Linked DNA regions of Homo sapiens: region 2 is linked to region 1. Evidence: fine-mapped expression QTL. A gene starts in region 1. The other region holds a variant in brackets. All regions are shown on one strand. Distances are between the middles of the regions. Region 1 holds the start of GCOM1 (GCOM1, MYZAP-POLR2M combined locus). Region 2 has its middle 26 kb from the start of GCOM1.

Region 1 (5,382 bases):
ACACCTGTGCTTTAGCAGAGAAATTCAGGACTGCTCTTAGGCCTATGTGGCTATTTCTGTGGATAGAAAAGGATGACAGCTAAGACAGTTTTGTCATAGCTCCCGTTCTCTCCAGCCCAAACACTAGCAACCCCTTCATCACCAATGCTCAGAGGGTCTGGAGTAGATGAGTCATGTTGCAAGGGAATGTGGAGAACTTCTACACCAGACCCTTATCCCTGTTCCCCTCCCATTGGCCCTCTTCCCCACTCTCAGTTCTGTAGACTCCAGAGGACTGCTGACTGGGCAGAAGTTCTCAGCTTTTGATTCCTCTTTTGAAAAGAGTCCATCTTTTTTTAAAAATCATCTTCTCTCAGAAATATTAATGGAAACCAGTGACTGTGACTTCATTTTTTACTTTTTCCTCTCCACTCTAGATCCACTTTTCCATTGATTTCAGTCCTACTTGTCTTCCCATTTTCCTTCTTTCCCACTTTCTGGGCTCCCCACTCTCCTCTCTCTTGCAGTTCCTTATGACCTCAGATTCCTAGTGCTGGCCTATTAGGGAGGAGCTGTGGCATAAGCCAGGGCCTGGCATCTGCCTGGACACACCACCCACAGCCCTTGGCGATTGTCAGCCAGCTTTGGGGAAATGGCCTGGCTGGGACAACCCTGGGGCTCTTGTTGCTTCAGCTGCCAAATTGCTTGGAGTCCCTGGCCCACCCTAGGAGCTGGGTTGGCAAGGATCTTAGTTTCTGTTTTTCATGACCATGAGTGAGTTGAAATCTTACTCTGTAATAACATTTCTTCATTCTTTCCACATTTACTTGCACTACCACACGTCAATTACCTGCTCTAGATATTGGACAGGCAGAGATGTAAACAAGATCCAGCTTCTACACAGAGCTCACAAGCTAGTGAGCTGTCTGCTGCTTTTGTAAAGAAATATAACACCGTGTGAATAGGATGTTAACAATATGAAAAAGACTTGGGTAGATTAGAGGGCTTCGTGGAAGTGGAATGGGAAGGAACCTGTCATGAACAATTTTCTTTTTGGAAGGGATAGGTGGATGGGAGGATGCAGAGAGGAGTGTAGCAGAAAAGCAGAAGGACTTGGGTTAGAAGACTAGATGTGTAGTCTCAGCTGTTCACCAATTAACCTAATGTCTCTGGCCTCAGTTTCCTCATTTGCAAAACAGGGGCGATAACTGTAGCCCACCTTGTGGGGCATTGTGAGAATTGGTTGAGAAAATGCATATAAAGCACTTAGGACACAAGCACAGCTACTGTGAGGATGACGATGAGGATGGTGAAGAACAGGCTGTGCAACTTTGGGAAAGTCACTTGTATACACCGGCCTCAGTTTCCTCATCTACAAAAGGAGTGAGTTCCACAGGATCATCTGTAATTCTGTTTAGCAACATTTTTTTTTCAGCATCTTCCCTGTTGGTGCCATTGGGCATTCAGAGAGGGTCAAGGCCTGGCCTCTGCCCTCCAGAAGGACAGGGTACAGGCACACACATAGATAACTCTAACAGAAGACAGGGTCCCGCGGAGCTGCTAAGTTCCTGAGCATGCGTGTTTGGGGAAGGGGTTTCTGGAGAGCTCCGTGGGGAGGCAGTGCTTGACCTGGGCTTTGAAGACAGAGATTGTGTCTTTCCCTGCTGAAAAACACTTTGTCCTCAAGATAAAGGCCAAATTTCCAGCTAAGCACACAGGTTCCTCATGATGTCCTCAGCTCCCTTCCGCTGCTTCTCCACTGTTTTCCCACTGCACTGTGATACTTCCAATTCTTGAAACATATTTTATACCTTCCCTTGCTTTCCTTCCATCTTTGTGCATGCTAGTTCTTTTGACCTGGGACTCCCTCCTCCCTCTGTTAGGGGACAGCAGAGGGGACAAGCAAGGCACTAGGGTCGGACTGGGGGATTCATATCCTACCTTTGCCACTGAGAGGCCAGTGGGTCGCCTGCTGTGTTGCTCAATCCCTAGGTGAGTCAGCGTCTTCATCTGCAAAATGGGGATACAAGGTAACAACAGTGACTCCCTCAAAGGGCAATGGTGAGGATTAAATGAGGTAACACACGCAAAGTGCTCGCCAGGCAGGCCCACAGTAATCATTGAATAAATATGGGCAGTGTGGCCCACTCCTACTTGCATTTCAGGTCTTAGCTTAGTCATCACCTCCTCTGAGGTTGGCTGTGTGCTCCCTTAGTACATGGTATCTCCTCTTCTACCACAGCCCGGCACCTGTCATCCCCACCACACTGCAAACTCTCCGAGGCCAACAGCCAGTCGACTGGGTTGGCTGCTGGTGGGGACGCATAATAGGCATTCAGGAAATACTGAATGAATGACATGGGGTGAGGGTCCCAGTGATACGAGGGCGTGCAGAGGCTGTAGGGGGCAGTCCGGGGTGGGGGTAGGTCGTGAGACTGAATGGGCAGGTGGATCTCAACTCTGCGGGGGACAGAGAGAGCATGGGCGTCCAGGCTGTCCAGGGCTCCTTCTTGCCCTGGGACTGACCCTGGGAGGGCGCAGCGCCCTGGGAGAGGATGGTGCTCAACTTTAACCGGGTCGGCGCCCTCGGGAGAAAATGCAGCCTGACGGGTCGGGTGAGCGCGCTCGGCCCCGCCCCGGCCCGGCCCGGCCCCGCCCCCGGCCCCACCCCCGGGCCTTCGCGGTGCAGCTGAGGCTGCAAGTAGCCGGCGCCGTCCCGCGTCGCCCCCGCGCAGGGCGGGCCCCGCACGCTTATTCTGCCCGGGAGGAACGCCGGCGTCCAGCCCGCTACCGACCGCCGCTGCGGGATGCTGCGCTCCACGTCCACGGTCACCCTGCTCTCGGGCGGCGCCGCCAGGACGCCCGGGGCGCCCAGCAGGAGGGTGAGTAGCGGGGGCGGGAGCCGCCGCCGTCCCGTTCCCCCATCCCGGCCGCCCCCTCTAGAGGGGACTAGGGATGGGAAAGCTCGGGAGCCAGCACCTGGCCCCGACGCCCCACCCTGGGCTCAACTCCCCGGTCCTGTGCCGGCTCTGGCAGTGACCCTCCCGCTTGAGGTTTCAGGGGGCCCACCAGCTGGTAGGAGAGGGCTTAGGGGACTTTATGGAATTCCCAGAGATTTCCTCTCCTTCCTGCCTTTCTGTCAAGCCGAGTTTATTGGCGGCACCAGTTTAAAAATGAAGGAAGACATTTGTGCAGTGTCCCTACCTTGAGACTCAAAAGTAATGAATGTATTTAAAACTCAAACTTTCCTTCTTCCATTAATTAAAAGAAAGATGGGGTCACTTGTGTCCACTAGTGATAGGGTATCCACTAGTGATAGGGTAATTCTGGAGTGGGGTTAGCCAAGGTGGGCAAACCAGAACAGCAGCCGGCCGCCCAGGAGCCCGACTGTGTGGGACTCCGGTTTATGTAAACCACTTTCTTCTGTCTGATTTAAATATTAGCACAGTGACAACAATGGCAGCACTGAAAGCTTGGGACAGCATCTCCAGGGAAGGTTTCCCTTTGGAAGTGCTGTTTCTTTTTGATCTTTGTGGCATCTTTTCCCATCTCTCCAGATGCTCTGTAAAAGAAATGCTCCATCTTTCTAACACGGTCAGCACCTTAGAGCCACAGCCAGGGGCTTGGCTTGTGGCTTTTTAGTTCTTCCATTTATCATGATGTTCAATACTTATCATTTGGTACCTCTTTGCTCTGATTGAGACTTCTGTAATCGTGTTTCCTCAAGATTTAAACAGGTGGTTAAGTCCAAAGCAAAACCCCCACTGGTTCTGTCTGCGTGCAGGCTTGGACCTGCTTATTTGCTTTTACATGCCTTAAGCGAGTGATGGTGGTCACCTTATAAGCTGTCTTTCTTAGCTCTAGAAGAAAGGTGTGTTACTCTTGGGCATGGGCCAACTGATGGATTCTGGGGTGTGTGTGTGCGTGCACTCACCAGACACTTAGGTTGTGTACACAGGCGCACACACACACACACACACACACACACCCCAGAATCCATCAGTTGGCTCATGCCCAAGGTTGACAGAACTCCAGTTGTCCAATCATTAGCATCATAGAGTAAGATCTACATTGGGTCCAAGGGGGTTTCCAACCACAGTCCTGGCCTTACTCTAAGTTGGGTGTTTGTATTTTTCTATGGAAATCTTTCTCAATTTGAACACAATTGCAACTGAGAAAGAATGAAGTCACTGAAAAGCTAACCCTGAGCCCTGAGAGGATCATATGTGTGACCAGACTGCATGAATTGCATGAAATTCTCTGTAACTTCCCTTCCAGAGGTGGGGATTAGTTGGGGTACCTAACCTAATACGGTGGGTTGATACAAATGTGACTAGTATACAAATAACATTTCTGAAGATTTTGGGTCAAACGTTTCCTTTGGAATATTTATTTAATTATAGGTGCTTTGCTGTCGGACACATTGTGACACTCTTGAAAAGACTTTGCCTTTTGAATAAGATGGCAGACGTATTTTGGACTGGAGAACTCAGGGCTCGGGATCAGGCCATTCAGGGCTGTCCTGGGTACACTGGTACTTGTTTCTGGAAGGAAGGTATCTAAAGGGTCTAGGGTTCTGCCCATCTTTATGGTTTCTAGCTCTGCTCATGATTTGCAGATGTTACAAGTACTATCTGTGTGTGTGCTGGGGATTGTGTGTGTGGTGGGAAGCTGTGAGATGTTGATTAATTGATTTATTGAACATTCATAAACCTTTCTCTGTGTGGTAAAGGGCTGGCATTGGGGTCCGCCCTACCTGTAGAGGCAGACATTTTCCCAAACTAACATCAAACAAAGTGGTGATGGTTATAGTGGGGTGAAGAGTTTACAAAGTTCTGTAGAAGCTAAAATAAAGGTTCTTCCTGAGGCATCAGGGGAAGGCCTCTCACTAAAGGTATGTTTTTTTGAGATGGAGTCTCACTTTGTCATCCAGGCTGGAGTGCCATGGCACGATCTCGGCTCACTGCAGCCTCCACCTCCCAGGTTCAAGCAGTCCTCCTGCCTCAGCCTTCCGAGTAGCTGGGACTACAGGCGCACACCACCATGCTTGGCTAATTTTTGTATTTTTAGTGGAGACAGGGTTTTGTCATCTTGGCCAGCCTGGTCTTGAACTCCTGACCTCAAGTGATACAACTGCCTCGGCCTCCCAAAGTGCTGGGATTATAGGCATGAGCCACCCAGCCCCGCCTACTGGTGATGTTTGAGTTTAATCTTGCAGGATGAGTAGAATTTGTAGGGGAATTGACATTATTGGGATACTGAAAGGAGGAAATAACCATCTCAATGGAATACTTGGCATATATAATCATGTACTGCATAACCACATTTTGGTCAACAGTAGCCAGGATATATGACGGTGGTTGGAATGGTAGGCTATCTCATATCGCCTAGGTGTGTGGTAGG
Region 2 (5,382 bases), 26 kb before region 1:
CAGACAGCAGGCATTTGAAATTAAACAGAACATTATAATTCTGGGTCCTAACCTTTATAAATGCAAGGCAAGACTAGATTATGTTAGCGGATTTGTCAATATTCATTTGGTTCAGTCTTATTGCACAGATAGGCAATTAAAGCATTTTAAATGGGCTGTGCTTAAGTGTGGTCCCCCTCTCATGTACTCCTATAGCAGGCTTTAAAACACTGCATTGCGCTTAAAGATCTGCTTCTTGGATTTGGGCTGTTGAGCTCTTTTCCTTCTTCCACATCATTCCCTCAACTTCTCAAGAAGTTGTCAACTTGAGATGCTGACACATTCTGCAAGTGCACAGGGACACAGCCCTAAGAGTGATCAGCTACCCCCAGTGCCCATCAGTGGTTCAGTGAAGGACGGCATCCCTGCTTAGAATTTGACCATTCAGTCTGCCGGTTACCAAAACCATGTTCATGCTTTAGTGTAAAGGTTTAGCATCAAGGTTACGTCCCAGGTGATGCTTCAAATCCAAACTTCCCCCTTCCCTGGGCTCCTGTGGTCTTTTGTTCTCTTGCAGCGCTTCCGGACTGTGGTTAGCTGATTATAGTTATTTTTTCCTACATCATTAGGTGGTGAGCTTCTCCGGGACAAAGTCTGTCTCATTATTCATCTTTGTTTGTAGCAGGTGCCTGACAAATACTGATAGAATTAAAATAACTTTTGTTTGTCTCACATTTTGATAAATGAACAGGGCTATATTTACCTGAACGTTTATGATTTCATACATGGACAGCATATTTCCTCTTGGGCTTTTCTCTTCCTAGACTGGATAGATTTAATGATTTTAGTTTTATGTCACAGGACAACCCTCCACCTGGAAGAACTGAAGTTCTATTAAGTTTAGGGGTTTCTGGCTAATTTGTAAATTGTTGAGAAAGAATCCACCTTGTTCTGGTCAAAAGGTGACAAATATAGTTAACTTCAACAAAGGGCAGAGAGTCAGCTATTGTTTCTGCCAATGATTACTTTTGTTATATGCTTGAGATCAGATACTAGTCATTTGTATCCCAGTTAACTTAATATAGATAGCATTTTCTAATATTTTCAAGCGTTACTCTAATGCTTTTTGACGCCTATTTTGAACATCAATCTTTTAAACTCATTATATATTATTCTATAATTTATAGAAAAATCATCACACTTTACCTAATTCTTGTTTGTTTGTTTGTTTGTTTTGAGACAGAGTCTCGCTCTGTCACCCAGGCTGGAGTGCAATGGCGCGATCTCGGATCACTGCAAGCTCCGCCTCCGGGGTTCATGCCATTCTCCTGCCTCAGCCTCCCGAGTATCTGGGAATACAGGTGCCCGCCACCACGCCCAGCTAATTTTTTTGTATTTTTCGTAGAGACGGGGTTTCACCGTGTTAGCCAGGATGGTCTCGATCTCTTGACCTCCTGATCCGCCTGCCTCGGCCTCCCAAAGTGCTGGGATTACAGGCGTGAGCCACCGCGCCTGGCACTTTACCTAATTCTTATAGGCAATATTTTCTTTGGTACTTGGGACTTTTTTTAAAGAATAGTATCCTCAAATTGGAATTAGTGTGTCAAATAATATGAATGCTTTTCTGATTCAATTGGATTTTTAATTTTTATACTTACTCAAATAATTTATACTGACTGTTGAAAAATAGATAAGCAATTAATAATAAAGAAAGTCCCCCTTGCTTTCACTATTTAGAAATAACTACTATAAATATTTTTATGTATATTTGTGTACACTTTTTTCTTTACATGGATGTTTATTTCACAAAATGTGGAATCTTACTGTTTATGCTATTACATAGCTTATTTTTTTAAATTATTGTGAATTTTTTCAGCTATAAAAAGATATTTTCTCAAAAATTTTTTTCAAAAGAATATATTTTTTCAACACAGTTTTAATAATTGCACTGTATTCCATGGAATAATAATACTAATAGTTAACATTTGTTTTGTAATTTTTATATGCTATGCAATATTCTATTTGTTTTATATACCTAAGCTCATTTAATCATCACAATAACCCTGTGAGATAGGTACTATTACTCTATTTTAGCAAAAAAAATTATGCATAGAAATATTAAATGACTTGCCTAGTTATGGGCATACCATAAATGTGCATGACCCAGTAGGTCATTGTAGAACATTTTAGTTATTTATTTTTTGTTTGCCATCATAAGAAATGTTGCTATTAATTCATGAAACAAATATTCACTGAGCTCCCACTCTATGCTGGGTGTTTTGCTAGAAGCTTCGTATGTAAGGGAAAAACTGTTGCAGAAAGTAGGCTTGGCTGGGAAAGAGACCTATTTGAAAGGATCCTGGCATGAGATGGCGTTTTCTCTCTTCTGTTTGCTCACATCG[C/T]GGAGGGGAACTCCATACTGCAACAGCAGCCCCTGGCTGGATGTGGTTTTGTCTCTTTCGTCAGCAGGGATATCTCCCGCCCCACTTCCTTGCTCTCTCAGGAAGGCCCCCTCGTGCTCCGCACACCTGCCAGGGTGGGGCTTGTGGAGTTGACCTTCTTCCTTCCTGAATCAGACAACCAAACCAGAGGTGTAACTTCGGTGGCTGGTCCTGTACCTCTGATTCTGTTCTGTGTTCTAAGCAGAGTTTTCACGAACAATGAAAACGCCTGGGAGTGTTCATTGCCAGTTATTAAAGAAAAATGGAATTGGCTACTGTACGGTGTAATAGTCCCCAGGTTATTCCACCCTTTCTGGCAGACTATTTACTCATGTACTTTTAGTATACTGAGGGAAGGCTAAGAGATCTCTGGCCAGTGGGTAGGAAAGAATAAAAAGTCTTTGAGTTTTCAGGTATTTTCTTTTAGTAGTAGCTTCCAGCAAGGCACAGTGGCTCACGCCTGTAATCCGAGCACTTTAGGAGGTCTAGGCATGTGGATCACTTGAGGGCAGAGTTTGAGACCAGCCTGACCAACATGGCAAAACCCTGTTTCTTCTAAAAATACAAAAATTAGCCAGGCATGGTGGCACGCACCTGTAATCCCAGCTACTCAGGAGGCTGAGGCAGGAGAATTGTTTGAACCCGGGAGGCAGAGGTTGCAGTGAGCTGAGATCATGCCACTGCACTCCAGGCTGGTGACAGCAAGACTCCATCTCAACAACAATAAAAAACCTTTATTAACATAATTTACATACCATATTATTCACTCTTTTAAAGTGTAGAATACATGGGCTTTGAATACGTTCACAGAGTTGTGTAACAATCACCACTGTTTAATTTCAGAACATTTTCATTACCCCAAAGAGAAATCCCATACCCACTGTAGCTTCTCATTCTCCCCACCCAAATCCCCCAGCTCCTGGCCACCACTAATCTACTTTCTATCTCTATGAATTTGCCTATTATGGACATTTCATATAAATGGAATCATATGTGGCATTTTATGTCTGACTTCTTTCACTTAGCATAATGTTTTCAAGGTTCATCTATATTGTAGCATGGATCAGCTCTTCATTATTTTTTAAGGCTGAATAGTATTCCATTGTATAAATAGAACACAAACAAAATATAAATTTTGTTTCTTCATCCATCAATTGATGGATATTTGTGTTGTTTCCACATCTTAGCTATTATGAAGAATGCCGCTGTGATCATTTGTGTACAAGTTTTTGTTTGAACATATGTTTTCAATACTCTTAGGTACATTGCAGGCATGGAATTGCTGGGTGATAACGTACCTTGATGTTTAACCTTTTGAGGAACTGTCAAATTGTCTTTCAAAGTGACTATATAACTTTACAATCCCACCTGTCATGTATGAGGGTTTGTTGCATTTTTAATTGCAGTTACCATGAAGTCTGTAAAAGCCAGGCAGTCACAGCCACAGGGCACAATTCCAGAGTGCAGAGGAAGTTTTCCATACAACTCTCACCCTCTTGGCAGGGATACCAGGCCTGCATGTCTCGTGACTGCACATGTTGTTTAGACAATTGTCTCTGTTTGGTGACCCACAGTTTTCGTACTGATATCCGAGTTTTATTGGCATTGCTGACCTATGAGTCTGATGTCTTTGGTGCAGAGCCTCTATCACAGTTTTACCCAGAATCCCATTGCTTTGGACCAATAATAACAACATTCCCTTTGTACAGGTCTTTGCAATTTGCAAAGCACCGTGTTACTTCCCTTTTCTCCAGAGCCTTATGCTCTGCTTTCCAAGGTGTTGGCCTTAGTATAGCAATGTAACCGCTGCTAAGGTGTGTAATGGCCAATAAGATGCTGGCTTTTCCTAAAGAGACTCACTGAGTCCTAATATTTCCCTAGTATAAATGTATCAGTAATGATGAAGATGTCAGGTGCTATGATAGAGCAAAATGGCTTTTGAGGCTCCCTCAAAGCTAGTCTTAGAAGACTCCCCCTCTGTGTGCAGGCCATAAGCTTGGCATCGTTGTAGGAACTTAGTACGGTGTCCAAGCCAGAAGACTTTTCTTTTTGAGACGGAGTCTCGCACTGTCGCCCAGGCTGGAGTGCAGTGGCGCGATCTCAGCTCACTGCAAGCTCCGCCTCCCGGGTTCACGCCATTCTCCTGCCTCAGCCCCACGAGTAGCTGAGACTACAGGCGTCTGCCACCACGCCCAGCTAGTTTTTTTTTTGTATTTTTAGTAGAGACAGGGTTTCACCGCGTTAGCCAGGATGTTCTTGATTTCCTGACCTCGTGATCCGCCCACCTCAGCCTCCCGAAGTGCTGCGATTACAGGCGTGAGCCACCACCCCCGGTCCAAACCAGAAGATTTTTCTACATCTTTCTTCTTATACAAAGATCGTTTGTGAAAAAGCTAAGATTGGTGGCAGGTTTTCAGGAAATTTTCCTTTTTTTTTTTTTTTTTTGCTAGTTTGTGTTCCTAAATAGTGAACATGCAATCGCTAAGTTTTTAAAAGAAGCGAAAAATTGATGGTAGGCCCAGCAGTTAGAAGGCCCTGGGGTTACAGTTCTTCCACAGGGCAGTTGCTGTTTATGAGTGTTCTTTCTTATCTGTAAACCCGTTCTCTATGCCTGAGAGAACATTCCTTACAGCCATGACTCCTTAAAAAGGATAGCCTTTGCAAAAGATTCTTGTCAAATGTTTTTCATCATCTATAAATCACACACAACTGTTTCCCCCAACATTAGCATCAATGTGTATGCCAGTTTCCTCTGAAAATGTCAAGCATGACTGCTCCTTAGAGAAACCATGTTTCTACCTCTCTTCCTCACCAAAGTTTATAAATTCCCAAGCATTCTCTGTGTTAACATTTTATTGTGTGTCACCTCACCCTGAAAAAAAAAAAAAGATAACTAGATTCTGTGCGTGAACCCCCTTCAAAACTCAACTCCCAGGAGAGCTGTGTGTTTTCTAAGCCTGAG

Evidence for each region. PIP is the estimated chance that this variant, and not a neighbour inherited with it, causes the effect.
Region 2: its variant is fine-mapped to the expression of GCOM1 in blood mononuclear cells (TOPMed, PIP above 0.99).

The regions. Positions count from the first base shown.
Region 1 is chr15:57,589,249-57,594,630 of GRCh38, forward strand. It overlaps GCOM1 (GCOM1, MYZAP-POLR2M combined locus), which reads left to right and starts at 2,656. Exons shown (of 17, transcript NR_104371.3): 1 at 2,656-2,861. MYZAP (myocardial zonula adherens protein) reads left to right here and starts at 2,656. Exons shown (of 13, transcript NM_001018100.5): 1 at 2,656-2,861. The coding sequence starts at 2,787. RefSeq lists a silencer at 2,545-2,654.
Region 2 is chr15:57,563,069-57,568,450 of GRCh38, forward strand. No RefSeq gene overlaps it. Among named protein-coding and RNA genes, the nearest start is that of GCOM1, 26 kb to the right of the region's middle. The variant C/T (reference allele first, on the strand shown) is at 2,382.